Linked DNA regions of Homo sapiens: all the other regions are linked to region 3. The links come from fine-mapping of genetic effects on gene expression. A gene starts in region 3. Each other region holds a variant in brackets. All regions are shown on one strand. Distances are between the middles of the regions. Region 1 overlaps DRAXIN (dorsal inhibitory axon guidance protein). Region 2 overlaps AGTRAP (angiotensin II receptor associated protein). Region 3 holds the start of MAD2L2 (mitotic arrest deficient 2 like 2).

The links. PIP is the estimated chance that this variant, and not a neighbour inherited with it, causes the effect.
Region 1: its variant is fine-mapped to the expression of MAD2L2 in whole blood (TOPMed, PIP above 0.99). The same link has a PIP of 0.9 or more in blood mononuclear cells.
Region 2: its variant is fine-mapped to the expression of MAD2L2 in whole blood (TOPMed, PIP above 0.99).

Annotation. Positions count from the first base shown.
Region 1 is chr1:11,715,922-11,722,062 of GRCh38, forward strand. DRAXIN (dorsal inhibitory axon guidance protein) reads left to right here. Exons shown (of 7, transcript NM_198545.4): 7 at 3,663-6,141. The coding sequence ends at 3,775. Among named protein-coding and RNA genes, the nearest start is that of AGTRAP, 17 kb to the right of the region's middle. RefSeq lists an enhancer at 3,823-3,892. The variant T/C (reference allele first, on the strand shown) is at 3,521.
Region 2 is chr1:11,737,504-11,743,579 of GRCh38, forward strand. The region is part of intron 1 of AGTRAP (angiotensin II receptor associated protein); the gene reads left to right. Among named protein-coding and RNA genes, the nearest start is that of AGTRAP, 4.4 kb to the left of the region's middle. The variant T/C (reference allele first, on the strand shown) is at 2,488.
Region 3 is chr1:11,678,094-11,684,093 of GRCh38, forward strand. It overlaps MAD2L2 (mitotic arrest deficient 2 like 2), which reads right to left and starts at 3,055. Exons shown (of 9, transcript NM_006341.4): 1 at 2,946-3,055; 2 at 2,469-2,520; 3 at 2,260-2,378. The coding sequence starts at 2,508. RefSeq lists silencers at 2,377-2,436, 2,877-3,396 and an enhancer at 5,020-5,601.

The DNA.
Region 1 (6,141 bases), 38 kb after region 3:
TGCAGCAGTGCAGTTTTGGCTCACTGCAACCTCTGCTTCCCAGGCTTAGGTGATCCTCCCATCCCAGCCCTGCAGGTAGCTCTGACTACAGGCGCATGCCACCAGCCCAGCTAATTTTTGTATTTCTGGTAGAGGCAGAGTTTTGCCATGTTCCCTAGGCTGGTTTCAAACTCCTGACCTCAAGCGATCCACCTGTCTTGGCCTCCCAAAGTTCTGGGATTACAGGCATGAGCCACCACACCCAGCCAGTTTCAATTTTGTATTCTGCAAAGTTTCAAATATATACTAAAGTAGTTAGAATAGTCTAATGAGCGCCCATTTCTCATCACTCTGCTTCAATACCAACTCACGGCCAATCTGTGTCTATCATCTCTCACACACTTTCCTTATTCCGACATGATTTCTAAGCAACTCCTGGGAGCTTACAGGTATTTCACCTGTGAATATTTTAGTGTGTACCTCTGAAAGACAAGTACTCTTTTAAAAACAAAATGCCAAACATGAACGATAATTAATCAGTTCCATCCAATATCAAATCAGCATTCACACATCTCCTGGATGGGGGAATTGGGGCTCAGCCCCTCTGTGGACCTGAGATACATGCCCCGTTTTGCTCATATTAGCCTCAGAGAGTTATCTACCATGATCGTGCCACTGCACTCCGGCCTGGATGATGGAGCGAGACCCTGTCTTAAAAATGATGATAATACATCTTTTTCTTCCCAATTTTTAAAATTGTGGACTTTTAAATTTAATTTAATTATTTTTTGAGACAGGGTTTCACTCTGTCACCCAGGCTGGAGTGCAGTGGCGCAATCCCAGCTCTCTGTAGCTTTAACTCCCGGGCTCAAGGGATCCTCCCGCCTCGGCAATAAAGCTATGTAGTTCTGATTATTCACTCATCTAATCAGTTAAATATTTAGGGAGCACCTACTGCGTATCAGACATTGCTCTGGACACTGGGGGGTTCAGTAGTGAAAAGAACCAGCAAGTTCTGTGCCCATGAATTACATTCTAGTGATATGAGCAGACAACAATCAAATACATAGATAGTATGTCTTTAGAAAATAATAAGGGCTATGGCCGAGCATGGTGGCTCATGCCTGTAATCCTAGCACTTTGGGAGGCCGAGGCAGGAGGATCACTTGAGGTCAGGAGTGAGACCAGCCTGGCCAACATGGTGAAACCCTGTCTCTACTAAAAATACAAAAATTAGATGGGCATGGTGGCACTTGCCTGTAATTCCAGCTACTCGGGAGCCTGAGGCATGAGAATCGCTTGAACCCGGGAGGCAGAGATTGCAGTGAGCCGAGATCCTGCCATTGCACTCCAGCCTGGGTGACTGAGTGAGACTCTGTCTCAAAAAGAAAAAAAAAGTAAGTAATAAGGGCTATAAAGATAATAATATGATAATGAGTCCTACAGTTGTTTTAGAAAGGGTAGACAGAAGTGGGCATTGGAGGCCAGGGGAGTGGTTCATGCCTGTAATCTCAGCACTTTGGGAGGCCAAGGCGGGCAGATCATGAGGTCAGGAGTTTGAGACCAGCCTGACCAACATGGTGAAATCCCATCTCTACTAAAAATACAAAAATTAGCCGGGTGTGGTGACGCGCACCTGTAATCCCAGCTACTCAGGAGGCTGAGGCAGGAGAATCTCTTGAAACCAGGAGGCGGAGGTTGCAGTGAGCTGAGATCGTGCCTCTGCACTCCAGCCTGGGCAACAGAGAGAGACTCCGTCTCAAAAAAAAAAAAAGAAAGGGTAGACAGAAGTGGGCATTGGAGGCCAGGCGGGGTGGTTCATGCCTGTAATCCCAGCATTTTGGGAGGCCAAGGCAGGTGGATCCTTGAGCCCGGAGTTGGAGACCAGCCTTGGCAAGGTAGAGAGACACTGTCTCTACCAAAAATACAAAAAAAAAAAAAAAAATTAGCCGGGTGTGGTGGCGCACACCCATAGTACCAGCTACTTGGGAGGCTGAAGTGGGGAGGATCACTTGAGCCCAGGAGGCAGAGATTGCAGTGAGCCGAGATCTTGCCATGCCACTGCACTCCAGTCCAGGCAACAGAGCAAGACCCTGTCTCAAAAAAAAAAAAAAAAAGGGAGGCCCGGCACGGTGGCTCATGCCTGTAATCCCATCACTTTGGGAGGCGGAGGTGGGCAGATCACTTGAGGCCAGGAGTTCAAGACCAGCCTGGCCAACATGGTGAAACCCCATCTCTGCTAAAAAAAAAAAAAAAAAATACAAAATTAGCTGGGTGTGGTGGCGCATGCCTGTAATCCCAGCTACTCGAGAGGCTGAGGCAGGAGAATCACTTGAACCCAGGAGGCAGAGGTTTCATAAGCCAAGATGGTGCCGCTGCACTCCAGCCTGGGTGACAAGAGCAAAACTCCATCTCAAAAAAAAAAAAAAAAAAAGCAATGGCTCTCCATAGGATGTTTTACAGGGAAGGGCAGAATTTGAGCCACTTAAAAAAAAATTTAATAACCTTTTTCCTTTCCAATTTTCAAGATTATAGACTTTTTAATTGAATTTATCTGTGTATTTTATTTTTTAATTTTTTTGAGACAGAGTCTCACTCTGTTACCCAGGCTGAACTACAGTGGTGCAACCAAGGCGCACTGCAGCCTGGAACTCCTGGGCTCAAAGGATCCTCTCATGTTAGCCCCTCCTTCCTATAGTTGGGACTACAGGTGTATGCCACAATGCCTGGCTAATTTTTACATTTTTTGTAGAGATAGGGTCTCCCTATGTTGCTTAGGCTGGTCTGGAACTACTGGGCTCAAGCGATCCTCCCACCTCAGCCTCTCAAAGTGCTGGGATTACGGGTGTGAGCCACCGTACCCTGTGGACTTTATTTTTAGAGCAGTTTTCTAGAAAAATTTCACAGAATGTGGTTCTCATATACCTGCTTTGCCCCTGCATGCAGTTTCTCCTATTAATAACATCTTGCAATCATGTGGTAGATTTGTTTGTTTGTTTGTTTGTTTGTTTGTTTTCTGAGAGGGAGTCTAGCTCTGTCGCCCCAGCTGGAGTGCAGTGGCATGATCTTGGCTCACTGCAAGCTCCACCTCCCGGGTTCATGTGATTCTCCTGCCTCAGCCTCCCAAGTAACGGGGATTACAGGCACCCACCACCATGCCCGGGTAGTTTTTGTATTTTTTTAAGTAGAGACGGGGTTTCACCATGTTGGCCAGGCTGGTCTCAAACTCCTGACCTCAAGTGATCCACCTGCCTCGGCCTTACAAAGCGCTGGGATTATAGGCGTGAGCCACCGTGCCCGGCCTCTCTTGGTACATTTGTTGCTTGACAAACCAATAGTGATGTATTATTATTACTAACTGAAGTCAACGTAAGTTATAGTTCACTGTGCGGTGCATTCTGTGGGTTTTGACAAATGCATGCCATGTCCCACCATTACGTGTCACACAGAATATGTTCACCGCCCCGACCGCCCTGAGTCTTCTCTGTTCTCCTTCCGTGTTCATTCCTCCCCTCTTCCGGGTTCGTGTCTTTTAAGCTCA[T/C]TGGGGCTGCCGTGAGGAAGCTGGGTTGTAGGGCAGAATAATGAAGGCAGGAGGGAGCTGGCTGGCCCCGAGCGTGCAGGGGAAGGAAGGGGAGGGCACGGGCCCTTCGCGCCTCTGACCCCCCTTGCCTCCACTCGCCCAGGGCTGCGCTGCTATGCCAAATTCCACCGGAACCGCAGGGTTACACGGAGGAAAGGGCGCTGTGTGGAGCCCGAGACGGCCAACGGCGACCAGGGATCCTTCATCAACGTCTAGCGGCCCCGCGGGACTGGGGACTGAGCCCAGGAGGTTTGCACAAGCCGGGCGATTTGTTTGTAACTAGCAGTGGGAGATCAAGTTGGGGAACAGATGGCTGAGGCTGCAGACTCAGGCCCAGGACACTCAACCCCAGGAGGGGAGCCGCTCGGCGAATGAGCTGGGTGGGTGCCCAGGAGCCGGCCCGCAGCACCTGCACACACGAAGTCCGGACCCACGCAGCCTCCATCCCGCGTGTCTTGCTCTCCGCGATGGCAATGCCGAGAGTGCCCTCTACTGTCCGACTCCAGCACTGCAACAGCTTCAAGTTCAAAACCAAGAGGCGTTTTTGAGAGTGGAAAAGAAATTTAAACTTCCCGAAAGAAGGTCCACCATCAGGAGATGAATATGGAACATCTCCTATGTACCAGGCACTGTGCTAAGTGCTGGAATACATTATCTCATTGAATTATCACAACGACCTTTTCAAGTAGGCATTATCACCATGCGACAGGTTGAGGACCGTGAGGCACGCTGGAGTTATTTGACTCGACTTGCCCAGGGTCCCAGGTCAGTGCTCCTCAAACCTGAACATGCTAAGAGTCACCTGGAGGTCCAGTTAAAAATGTACATCTGGCCGGGCGCGGCGGCTCACGCTTGTAATCCCAGCACTTTGGGAGGCCAAGGCGGGTGGCTCACCTGAGGTCAGGAGTTCGAGACCAGCCTGGCCAACATGGGGAAACCCCGTCTCTATTAAAAATACAAAAATTAGGCCAGGCGCGGTGGTGCACACCTGTAATCCCAGCTACTCGGAGGCTGAGGCACCAGAATCGCTTGAACTTGGGAGGCAGAGGTTGCAGTGAGCAGAGATCGTGCCACTGCACTCCAGCCTGGGGGACAAGAGTGAAACTCCATCTCAAAAAAAAAAAAAAAAAAAAGCACATCTGACTCAGTGGGCTCTGTGCTCTAACAAGCTCCCAGGGAACGCGAGGCTGCTGGCCCAGGGACCCACTGAGAGGTCCTGGGAAGTACATGGCAGAGCAAGGACATGAACCTGGGCCAAGGCTGTCCAGCTCCAAGGCCCACGTTCTTGCTGCTCCACAGCCAAGAATTTCTTCCAGATTCTCTAAGGCTTTTGGCAAGAGAGGCTCACACCCTGGTATTCCCTTCCTCTGTGGCTGGAATAACTTGACTGTTCTCTGCCTTCCCTGGATAAAGGTGTATCATGTTTAAAAACAAAACAAAATACAACTTAAGCACATACTTGCTTGCAGGAATAAGTTGGGCAGGTTGATCCCTGTGGTCTAGTAGCTGATATCCTGGGATAAGAAGTGTTTGGGGAAAAGAATCATGTTGGCCTTTATGTCCCTGTGGTCCTGATCATCCAGTCCTGGACAGGCACTTTACAGTTTTCTGGAGCACTTCCCCCCCAGGGGTTCTGATGCAAGCATGGAATCCAAAAAAACCCCACACATATTGCCCATGTTTACCCACTTTGCATACTGTTTAGTGATTTCCAGGACCACAAAACCATCCCTGGAACCCCACCCCACATTTTTGCAGCAGAGCCCACTGGGAAGTTGAGGCTCACCTGAAATTGAGGTGCTATCTGAAGCTAACTGCCCCTAACAGGCCAGACTCACAATGCCCACCCAGGACATCTGTCCCAGCAGATCTGGCTTCAGGGGTCACTTCAGGAGAACCATTTAAATCCCCCCACTTGGCATCTCACTCCTGGCCAACCCTCTGTTCCAGGGCGAACCAGGTTGCAAATGACAAAAGACTTTCCTGGCCAAATTCCTCACTGGCCTGGATCACGCCCATAAGATGCCAGAGATGTTTACTGCGTTGGAAAAATCAGTCGGGGTCAGGGGTCAGGCACCAAGGAAAGCAGGCAGATCTAGAAGAAATTAAATATGCTTGTTCTCTCCCTATCCAAGTTTGATGGGCATGGGAACCTTGTGGGGAGGGAGCAGGGAGGGCAGGGGAACTGGGAGATCAAAGCAGGCTAGCTGAAAGGCAGATATGGCTAGACACAATGGCTCATGCCTGTAATCCCAGCACTTTGGGAGGCTGAGGTGGGCGGACCACCTCAGGTCAGGAGTTTGAGACCAGCCTGGCCAACATGGCAAAACCCGGTCTCTACCAAATATACAAAAATTAAGGCTGGGCACGAGGGCTCATGTCTGACATCCCAGCACTCTGGGAGGCCGAGGTAGGCAGATCACTTGAAGTAAGGCGTTCGAGAACAGCCTGACCAACATGGTGAAACCCCATCTCTACTAAAAATACAAAAATTAGCCAGGCATGGTGGCAGGTGCCTGTAATCCCAGCTACTCAGGAGGCTCAGGCGGGAGAATCACTTGAACCCAGGAGGCGGAGGTTGC
Region 2 (6,076 bases), 59 kb after region 3:
TATTTAATCAAGGCAGCCTTATGAGAAAGCTGATATGGTCATCTTTTTACAGATGAGCAAACTTCAGCTTAGACTGGGTAAATTGCCAAGGTCCCACGGGGAGTAAGTGGCAATATCAGGATTTGAACCCATAGGGATCAGACTCCAGGGCCAGGTCCTTTCTGGGGTACCAGCTTAGGGCTGACTTTAACGTTGGCTGTTTCTGTCCTTTGGGAGGGCTTAGTCTCTTTGGGGCTTTTTTTGAGCAACTTTTTGGGCCTGACAGGCTAAGAGCATCCACAGGTATGAGCTATGCTGGCTTTCGGTACCCAGGATGAAAAGGCTGGTCCTCCCCTTGACTTGGCAAACGAGACCCCAGTCTCCAAGGGTGTTAGCCGCTACCAGTCAGAGACAACAAAGTGCTGGAAGGCCCTGAGGGGTCAGGGTTGTCAGGTCGTGTACAGGAGATCCAGGTGAATTTGAATTTCAGATCAACAACGAACAGTTTTTTAGTATGAGTAAGTCTCAGGCAATATGTGGGACATATTAACAAATTATTCATGATCTGATATTGGAAATTAACTGGGTGTTCTGTATTTTTGTTTGCTGGATCTGGCCACCCTGTGGAGGGCAGCTGTTGACTCCTTGCTTATAGGCACTTAGGGGATGTTCTGAGTTCAGAGCCCTTCAGGAGGTGGGGAACTGCTCCCTGTGGCCTGCACTCCCTCCCCACTCCCTCGTTTTGTATATTCCTTGGGCAAGGGCTGAGTGCCTGCTTCTGCCCAGCTCAGCCAGAGTGGGCAGTGGTGCCAGGTGAGAAGAAACAACTGCCCCAGGCCCTTTGCACAAAGGGCAGCTCCTGACCAAGCCCTGTCCATGTCTCTTGAAGCCAGGTCCTGAGCTGCAAGAATGACATTGTGATGAGCTTAGAAAGGACTGGACTAGGGTACAGAGGTCTTGTGGGAAGAAGACCTTGGGAGGAGGATCTGGTGGTCTAGGAGGTAGTCGTGTAGCATTTGGGTTAAAAACTCAGTAATGAGGACTGCTGGGATGGAGGGCTGAATTCCTCACAGGCACTGTGTGGAGCGCTTCCCACACCTCTCCACCTCCCTGTACCACTGGATCCACACAACAACACTGAATCAGGCAGTATTGCCCTTCTTTGCAGAAGAGCCAACAGCTGTTCTGAGAGGTCAGGTGACTTGCCTAAGGTCACTAGGTTCTAAAGTCATGGAGCCAGGATCAGATCCACCTGTTTGCCTCCAGTACCCACGAAGTTAACCGCTGCACAACTCTGCCTCCCATCCTTGGCAGCCCTGACTGGTGTCCCTGGGCCCCGGCCACCCTGGGGGATCTCACTAGCACGTGTAACAGGCCACCAAGTGTTTGCACAGGACTGGTAGGAGTTTATTCCATTTCTGGGAAGTCCTACCCCGCCATGGGTCCTCTAGTGGCAAACAAAGGGTTTAAGTCTTGGTCTGCATGCCCTGCTGGTTTCTCTTCAGCCTTTCCTTCTCCAGGTTAGACTTCCTCATTTCCATCTGCCCTCTACGGCTCTTCGAGATCCTGACGGTGTAGCACAGTGGACAGAGCACAGGCTTTGGGGGCAGGCAGGTCTGCATTCAAGGTCTTGAGTAGGTTTCTGTGTGACCTTGAGTAGGTTTCTGAACTCTCTCAGTATCTATTTCTTCATTGTAAAAAGAAGTTAAATACAGTCCCTACCTCCTAGGATGATGGATCCATGGTCCAGGACGTAGTCTAGAATTAGGGTTACAAATTCAGGCTGGGCCAGGCGTGGTGGCTCACACCTGTAATCCTAGCACTTTGGGAGACCCAGGCAGGTGGATCATTTGAGGTCAGGAGTTCGAGACCAGCCTGGCCAACATGATGTAACCCCACCTCTACTAAAAATACAAAAATTAGCTGGGTGTGGTGGTGCTCGCCTGTAGTCCCAGCTATTCAGGAGGTTGAGGCACCGAGGATCACTTGAACACGGGAGGCAGAGGTTGCAGTGAGCCGAGATCGCACCACTGCACTCCAGCCTGGGCGACAGAGCAAGACTCTGTCTCAAAAAAACAAACAAAAACTCTGGCTGGATAGATTGATTCTGACATTTGTGTCTGGGCTCTGTTGTTTGTAAGCTTTATGAATTGGGCCAATTTACTTAATCTCTCAGAGCCTCAGTTCTACCCCATACAGTTACACGGATGACATGAGTTAGGGGCAGTGCAGTGTAGATGCATGGCAGGCTGGTGCTTGTCAGTAGCAGGAGTTGCTGCTGTCGTTGATGATGCAGGATCCCTGCCCCACATAGGTATTTAACAGTTAGTAAACGGATACTTACAGTGACCGTCCAGATAGATGCTTGTCTCTGGCAGTTGAGGCACCCCCGTGGGACAAATGGGTACTGCCTCCGTTTCGCAGAAAGGAGCCTGAGGCCTTGGCGCCTGGACCAGCACCCAGGTTTCCTGTTCCAGCATAGCATCCTGGGACCCTCTGCTGCCTTGG[T/C]CCATTGACCCCTGTCTGGGAAAGAGCTGGGCGGCCTCCCCTGGGCTGAGCACTGTAGTGAGAGTCCAGGGGCTCAGGTCCGTCCTTCCTGCCCAGCTGGGAAAGGTCCTGGCCCTGCCACCCGTTTAGCTCAGGTTCCTTCCCTGCTTCCAGCTCCTCTTTCAGGCCATACCTGAGAATCCTGTGTCTCTTTGGCTACCAGGAAGCTCCCCCAGGGCCAAAAGACAGTGGTTTTGTCCTGACAGTTACTGGCCCCTCTTTCCCTGGGCTGCCAGGAAGTGCAGGGCCCGTTTGGCTCAGTTTCTCCCTGGAGTCTTCCTGCACATTAAGGCCTCTCTGGGTGTCCTCCTGTTACACAGATGAAGAAACTGAGGCAGGGGAGGCTTAGGCTTCTGGACGTTTCTTTTCCCAGGGGCTTAAGAGGAGCAACTGGTGCTAACTTTGTTCATATTTATCAAACCAAAGTGACGTCACGCAGAGGAGACTGTGTGTGTGCTAAGGATCTGCAGTATTTCCAGGTTACGTTGTTTTCTTCCCTAACAGAGATGGCAGAGGTGTGGGCCCAGCTGGGTGCTCACTCTGTATTACAGGCCCTTCCAGCGCTAGGAAAAGCCTTTACCTCATAGGTTGTAAGCATGACCCTTAGGGTATCCTGCGGATCAGAGGCCCCCCTGGGACTCAGCCTTTCATGCTAACTGCCATTCTTTCCGGAATAATCCAGGGCTCTGCAGGGCCCATTTATTAAAGACCTACTCTGTGTACAGTCTAGGCATAGGAGCGAGAGCATTGAAAATGAAGATCATTTCCAAAACAAGCCCAGAGTGGGAAGAGTTAGGTGTCGATTTTGGGGAGGAAAGGGGTGATGGGAGCTACCTTCCCTCTGTCTCTTTCCTCGGTGTCTTCTTTAAAAGCTGGATGTTGGGACCACTGTGGCTGACTCTGCGGTGTGGCCCTGAGCAAGTTCCTTCCTGTCTGTGGTCCAGGGTTTACTATCAGATGGAGGGGACAGTGGTTAGCTCTGAAGATAAAGATCAGAATCGTCCTCATGCCCAGCCCTGCCTGCCCCCAACTTCCTGTCCCTCCCTCCTCCACTCCCCTCACCTTCCACTCCAGCCACACTGGCTTCTGTTCAGTTTCCAGAAAGTTCCACGCCCCCCTTCTGCCACAGAGCCTTTGTGAGTGCCGCCCCTCCTGCTCAAAATGCTCTTCTTCCCCCTCAGCCTCCCCCATCCCTTCCTCAGAGAAGCCCCTGACCACCCCAACCCTCCCAGCCTCCCTGCTGTTCAATCAGGTGCCCTTTCCCTTGCTTTCCTTCAGGATGCTTTCCTTCAATCAGGTGCTTTCCTTCGGGATGAGGGTTCACTGCACCTCCATTCCTAGGGCAGAGTACCTGGTTAGCGAGGTCAGTACTGAGAGCGCAGCTCCGAATCTGCTCTGCACACCTCTGACTCCCCAGGGTGAATGAAAAGCAGGTGCCAGTGATGCTGGGTGACACTAAATGTTTAAGAAACTTAACACCGTTTATCACTTCAAGCCCCTGGGGATTGAAATCCATGGAAGACTACACCTCTCTTGCCTCAGTTTCCCCATCTTTGTAATGGGGAGAGGCCTAATGGCTGGACAGCACAGCCTGGGTTTGAGTCCTGGCTCTGCCACTGGCCTGCTCTGTGACCTTGGGCAAGTTACTTCCTTCTGAGCCTCAGTTTTCTCAGCTGTAAAATGGGGATAATAAGACCTCAGAGGATTGTAAGGATTTAGTGCATTTATATACAGAAAGCACTTAGAATGGCACCTAGCACATAGGAAGCGCTCAATAGTAGACGAAGGTAGGTGAGGTGATGGCGAAGATTCCTTCTAGAGCTAGACTTCTGTAACACACTACTCAGCCTGGTCAGAGTCTCGAGATCTTAAAGTTGGGTGCATCGGTCCTTACAGAATTATTTTCCTAGTCTCTTGGAGCTGAGAAAGGAATTTCTTTTGGGCCACAGAGCCAGGCCCCTTGTGGTTCACTCTGGCCCTGGGCCCTGGAGGTAAAGGTGAAGTATCTCAGCCACCAGCTCTGGATTCCATCTGCCCCCATGTGTGGACCTTTCTCACAAGCCCAAACAGTTCCCAGCTGAAGGCCTGCGCCCCCAGCGGGGAGGTTGGGTGCACTGGTTTTGGAGGCGAGTTTGAAATTTAATTCCAGTTTTGCCACTTGCTACCTGTGGAGTCTTGATCAACATAATTTATCTCTGAGTCTGGTTTTCTCATCTGTGAAATGGGAATAATAGTACCAGAGGCTGCTGTGAGGTCCAGATAAGGTCATGTGAGACGGTTGGCATAGGGCCTGGCACATAGTTGGTGTGTGGTCAAGAGTAACTCTTCTAGAAATGCTTTTTCCTCTGCTGCCAGAGTGAGTTTGTCTGTCTTTCTTTTCTGTCCTTTCTTTCCCTTCTTTCCCTTCCTTCGTTCCTTCCTTCCTTCCTTCCTTCTTTCCTTCCTTTTCTTTCTTTTTCTTTCTTTCTTCCTTCTCTTTCTCTCTTTCTTTCTTTTCTTTCTTTCCTTACTTTCTCTTTCTGGCAGGATCTTGCTCTGTCCCCCAGGCTGTAGTGCAGTGGCATGATCTTGGCTCACTGTACACTTGACCTCACTGGCTCAAGTGATTCTCCCACCTCAGCCTCCCAGGTAGCTGGGGCTATAGATGTACTCCACCATACCTGGCTAATTTTTTGATTTTTTGTAGAGATAGGATCTTACTTTGTTAGCCAGGTTGTTCTCGAACTCCTGGGCTCAAGCAGTCTTCTCCCTCCACCTCCTAAAGTGTTGGGATTACAGGCGTGAGCCACCAGACCTGGCCCACAGTTCTTTTTTGCAGGTGGTGAGGGCTCCTTCTGCCCTTCCACCCAGGCCAGAAACCCCGGCCTTCTTCGCAAACCTTGCCCATGTCTGCGCCAGGACACTGCCTCTGCCCCAGGCATGTGGCATCTCTCCCTTCCAGCCTGACCCCTCAATCCCTTGAGTAAACTTCTAGGGCCCTCATTGACCACCAGGCCCGTTGAAGCTCCCAATTTGGGGCTCCTGGCCTCCCAAAGTCTCTGTGCCACCCCACCCCGACCTCAGTTATCTCCATGCCCACCGCCACCCATGCAGGGCCTGGGGCTTGGCCCCACTTTGCCTGGCCGAGCCCCGCTCATACATTGTGCTCAGCCTGGGTCCCTTCCCTTTGGAAGCTCTTTCTGCAGCTGCCTGCCCTCCCAAGGCATCTGTCTTTTCTTTTCTTTTTTTTTTTTTGAGATGGAGTCTCACTCTGTCACCCAAGCTGGAGTGCTGTGGCCCATTTTGGGCTCACTGCAACCTCTGCCTCCCAGGTTCAAGTAATTTTCGTGCCTCAACTTCCGGAGTAGCTGGGATTACAGGTGCCCACCACCATGCCCAGCTAATTTTTGTCTTTTTAGTAGAGACAGGGTTTCGCCATGTTAGCCAGGCTGGTCTCGAACTCCTGACCTCAAGTGATCCACCTGCCTTGGCCTCCCACAGTGCTGGGATTACAGGGGTGAGCCACCGCGCCCAGCCCATCTGCCCTTTTTCTTTCTTTCCTTTTTTTTTT
Region 3 (6,000 bases):
ACTTATCCATAGAGAAAGAAGTTAGAAGATAAGAACTCAGGCTGGGCACAGTGGCTCACTCCTCTAATCCCAGCACTTTGAGAGGATGAGGTGGGTGGATCACCTGAGGTCAGGAGTTTGAGACCAGCCTGGCCAAAATGGCAAAACCCCATCTCTACTAAAAATACAAAAATTAGCCAGGTGAGGTGGCACCTGTAATCCCAGCTACTTGGGAGGCTGAGGCAGGAGAATCACTTGAACCTGGGAGGCGGAGGTTGCAGTGAGCTGAGATCAAGCCACTGCACTCCAGCTTGGGCAACAAAGCAAGACTCCATCTCAAAGGAAAAGAAAGATAAGAACTCAATCCCAATATGAGCATTTAATATACCATTAGGGGTTCTTAATGTGGGGTCCATGGACTCCTCCAGAGTCTGAAAAATCCCTAAAGTTGTATCTTTGTGCACTTGGGCATTTTTCCAGAAAAAGGATCCAGGAAAATGTAATCAGATGTCAAAAGTTAAGAACTAAGGAACTGTGTGGCCTCAGGCAAATTCCTTAACTTCTCTGGGCTTCAATCACTTCATCATAAAGAAGAAGTGAGTAAATGTCAATTGTTTTTTCCTTTCCCCTCTAAAGGTGACCTTCAACTTACTATGGGTTTATGTTTGGATAAACCAATCAAATATCGCCAGCGGAAAATGCAGTTAATACACATAACATACAGAACATCATAGCTTAGCCAGGCCTACCTAAACACACTCAAAACACATTAGCCCACAGTTGGGCAACATTATCTAACACAAAACCTGTTTCATAATAAAGTGCTCACGCCTGTAATCCCAGCACTTTGGGAGGCCAAGGCAGGTGGATCACCAGAGGTCAGGAGATCGAGACCAGCCTGGCCAACACGGCGAAACCTTGTCTCTACTAAAAATACAAAAATTAGCCAGATGTGGTGGCACACGCCTGTAATCCCAGCTACTCGGGAGGCTGAGGCAGGAGAATCACTTGAACCCAGGAGGTGGAGGTTGCAGTGAGCCAAGATCACGCCACTGCACTCCAGCCAGGGCGACAGAGCGAGACTCAGTCTCAAAAAATAAAATAAAATAAAATATAAAATAAAAAATAAAGTGCTGACTACCTCAAGTAATGTCTTGAATACCATACTGGAAGTGAGAAAACAATGGTGGTGTGGGGACTTGAAGCGGGGACCACCTGGATGTCCTTTGAGCTTCTACCACTTATTCTCATGTTTCCTGAGTGCCTTCCAGAGACAGGCACTTCTAGGGACTGGAGCTACAGTGCGATGCACACTGCTTTGTCTGCCTTTTAGCCTTAACCCATTGAGTTTAGGATAAATGGTAGGGAGAAGATTTGGAGGTTTTTGGAAATACCCTCCTCACACCAAGGTTCACCAGCTTCACGAGCTCCTTCAAAGTGCCACCATGCCCCCAGGGTAACTTTTTTTTTTGGAGACATAGTCTTGCTCTGTCGCCCAGGCTGGAGTGCAGTGGCACGATCTGGGCTTACTTCAACCTCTGCATCCCGGGTTCAAGCGAGTCTCCTGCCTCAGCCTCCCTAGTAACTGGGATTACAGGCGCGTACCACCACACCAGGCTAATTTTTGTATTTTTAGTAGAGACAGGATCTCATCATGTTGGTCAGGCTGGTTTCTTGAACTCCTGACCTTGTGATTCGCCCGCCTCAGCCTCCCAAAGTGCTGGGATTACAGGTGTGAGCCACCATGCCCGGCCACCCCCGGGGTAACTCTTATCAGGCCTGGTCCCTAACTTCTGGCAAGGGGAACTCTCTTCTGAGGGGTGGGTAGGCATCACCACTTTGGAACTGGAAGGCATTGGAAGGCATGGGCAGGGCCCTGCGGAATGAGGTGGCTTGGCCCGAAGTGGAAGAGGTTTTTTTTTTTTTTTTTTTTTTTTTTTGAGACGGAGTTTCGCTCTTGTCACCCAGGCTGGAATGCAGTGGCACAATTTCGGCTCACTGCAACCTCCGCCTCCTGGGTTCAAGGGATTCTCCTGCCTCAGCCTCCTGAGTAGCTGGGATTACAGGCCTTGGCCACCACGCCCGGCTAATTTTTGTATTTTTAGTAGAGACGGGGTTTCACCATGTTTGTCAGGCTGGTCTCGAACTCCTGACCTCAGGTGATCCGCCCGCCTCGGCCTCCCAAAGTGCTAGGATTACAGGCGTGAGCCACGGCGCCCGACCAAAGAATTTTTAAAAGTCCACCCTGTACCCACTCTGTGGTTCTGGGACGTGCCTCACCTGGACCGGCACGTTGTACTTCTTGCGTTTCTGGAAGATGCCCACGGGGTAGACCTCGCGCACGTAGAGGATGAGATGCACAGCCACCTCCAGGAACTCGCAGAGCACATCGGCCACCACTGCAGGGGGGCACAAGCCGGTGGCGCGCTCGAGGAAGCCCGCCGGCCCAGACGCCCCCGCCCCCGGGCCCGCAGGTCCAGCCTCCCTACCTTGGCCAAAGTTGAGGTCTTGTCGTGTGAGCGTGGTCATCCTTCCCGCTACCTGAGTGTTGGGGCAAGGGCAGAGGGTAGTTCCAGAGACCCAGGAGCCCAGAACCCGCTCGCTTCCACCGTCTCTTCCCTCCCCACAGTCTGTGGGAACTGGGGAAGGACCTCCCGCTTCGCACAGGCTCAGGGCAGCTGGAAGAACCTCCACCCCCACGCTGGCGTCCGTGCTTGGGGGCATCAGCCTCTATCCACTGGCCGCCCGCGCCCCCTCGCCCCGCTGTCTCGCGGGGTGGAAAGACCACAGCTGTGCCCCCGAAAAGGGCAGGGCCGCGGACGCAGAGGGAAACAGCGGGATGCCCAGGGCCGGGAGCGCAAAGCGGGACATGCGGAAAGCGAAGCGGGGTTGGAATAAGACTCCGCCCCCTGCTACGCCGGATCCCTCCCGGCGGGAATCCCGCCCCCTCTCCCCTCCCCCAGTACCGGCTCTGCGCTCGGTTCCCGCCCGAGATCGGGCCCGGCCCCGCCGCGGGGAGCCACCGACCGGACCGATCGCGCCTCCCGCTCAACCCGGGGCCTCGGCGCCGCTCGGTGACGTTCACGGCGCTCCGGTGGGTCCTAGCGCCCGCCCCGCCCAGGCCACGCCCATTCCCGCACGGCCCAAACCGGGCCTCGCAGAGGGCGGTTCCGCATGCGGGGGCGGGTCTCCGAGGGGCGGGGGCCGGGCCTCGGCGTCCGGGAGGGGCTGAGACCCGCCGCGCCACCTCCCTTCAACTTCGGGTGGGCGCGAAGAAAACACAACGTTGATCTCCACGTTCCATTGGATCGCTACATATCTTCCCCCGAGGGCATTTCTCTCGCTTTAGCAGGCGCCGGAAGAGGGCTGGGGAGGGACGGGGGAGCGCGCAGCTGGGGACTAACGGCAGCCACATCTGAGCTAGCCCGAGTCACCATCCCTGCAGCTGCCCACGCAAAAGCGAATCCTCTGGCTCGGGGGCGGGAACAGGGGAGGACAGGATTGTACCGGTTGTCAAGGCCCGGGTGAAATTTTAAAAATAAAAAAAAGAGGGCGTGCACCGGCGTCGCCCCTGCTCCGCCCCCACCGGGTACCTAAATGCAGCCTGGCCTGACCGCCCAAGAGGATGAACCCTCCCCGCCCTACGCTTCATAACAATAGCTGACCTTTTTGGAGCTCCAGCCGAGTGCTGGGCACTGGGCTAAGTGTGTCCGTGGATTATCTCAGTCCTGGGAGTAACTCCATGAGGCAGTTACTGTGACTGTTCTCTTTATACAGATAAGTCAAGCGAGGTGCAGAAGGGTGAATAACCTGCCCGAGTCTCCCAGCTGGTGGGGTGGGCGATGGCCGAGGTGCCTCCTGCCACTACATTTTACTGCTCCCAAGTCCCCCAGGGGCGTGGACTCGGTCTGGAAGTCCTGTAAGGGCCCTCAGAGATGATATTACTAAAATAATAAAAAATAATGACTAACATCGAGCACTTCTTATGTGTCAAACACTGATTCCGTTAATTCTCTCATTAACCCTAGCAGCTAAGTCTCCATTTTATAGCCCCACTTTACAGATGGTTAAACAGGCCCAGAAACGTTCTCTAATTCGCCAAAATCACACAGTGGGAATACAAACCCAGCTCTGATGCCTCTTCTGACACCAGGGCTTCCACTTATTTACAGCCCCCTTATTTTACAAGTGAGAAAACTAAGATCTGAGAAGCAGCTACGGAGTTAGTGGGCAACAAGTCAGGACCAGAAGCCAAGAGGACTTTGTCTGTGACCTCCAGGGACGTAAGAGCTTGTTAGTCCCATCCGTCTGTTTGGACACAGATCTAGCCAGACTTGTTTATCGTTTACAGCTCATTATAGAAGACCTGGATCCCTCCCCCCGCCCCCTGATGCCTTCAAACCTGCATTTCCAGACTTCTAATGGGGAGAGAAAAAGTAACCTGTAAGTAACCCATTAAGCTAGGAATGTCAGCAAAACATTTCTTCAAATGCAGTCCTAGGAAATCTGCATCAGAATCCCCCAGGAGCCCATTAATCACAGCTGCCCTGCTGCCTAGAGCAACCTGATCGAGGTGGGGTGCACAGCAGGGCACTGGCCCTTTAACAAGCTCCCCAGGGGCCCGGATGCCCAGCAAAGTGTGGGAATCACCACAGAGGTTTGGACTGTTCCCAGAGAATATCTTCATTTTGTAAAAATGCGATGCATTTTGTAAAATTGTGATGTAAAATCATCCATCCAAAGGGATGGATGATTTTGTTTTAGGAACTGGTGCACTTGGCAGCACATTCTGGGCACAGCAACCATTCTCAAGATATGGGGATCCTGCACACATCATGCCATTTCCACACAGAGCTGGCCAAGCAACTCACTGGCTTATACACAGAGTTCCGTGGCTCCTTGAGACTGACTCATTGCAGAACTTGGGAAAAGCAAGGGTCTTTCCTTTCCCTCTCTGGAGGCTGCTTAAGCAGCTTTTGCATTGGTGACAGGCAGTGGCAGTCATAGGGGGCAACTCCTTGCAAAGGAGCCCTTCAGACTGGGGCCTGGGGTGGGGAAACTGAGAGCCAAGTGACTCCTGTGGGATGGCCTTCAGGACACAGTGTGAGGGGCATTGGGGCTCAAGTCAGGCCCTCCCTCCATGAGCTCCCAGCCCCAGCCCTCTGCCCTGAGAAAACACAATACGAGCCACCCGTAGAACTCCTGACACACAGAGCTAAGAACGTCAGAAAAACCTTGGAGGACATAAACTCAACTGTCATTTTTCCTTGGGGAAACTGAGGTCCCAACAGCTCTTGACACTGGAGTACCCACCCTGTCAACTAGAAACCTGTGGATAAAAATATCTGGGTTTGCAAATATCATATGTTCTCACTTGTAAGTGGGAGTTAACCTATGAGGATGCAAAGGCATAGGAATGATATATTGGACTTTGGGGACTCGGGGGGAAGGAAGGGTGGGAAGGTGAGGGAAGGGTGGGAAGGTGAGGGACAAAAGACTACATACTGGGTACAGTGTACACTGCTGAGGTGATGGATGCACCAAAATCTCAGCAGTCACCACTAAATAACTTACCCATGTAACCAAAAATTATTGCAATTAAAAAAAAACGTCAGCTGGGCACGGTGGGTGGCTCACGCCTGTAATCCCAGCACTTTGGGAGGCTGAGGCTGGTGGATCACCTGAGGTCAGGAGTTTGAGATCAACCTGACCAACATGGAGAAACCCCATCTCTACTAAAAATACAAAATTAGCCAGGTGTGGTGGCGCATGCCTGTAATCCCAGCTACTCAGGAGGCTGAGGCAGGACAGTCACTTGAACCCGGGAGGCGGAGGTTGTGGTGAGCCAAGATCGCACCATTGCACTCCAGCCTGGGCAACAAGAGCGAGAACTCCATCTCAAAAAAACAAAAAAAGTCTGGGTTTGGGGCCTTGGGTTCAGATCCAATCACAAACAGAAGGAAGGTGGGTTAGGAAGCAGATGGGGAGGGATTCAAACCCATCTGACCCCAAACCCCTAAA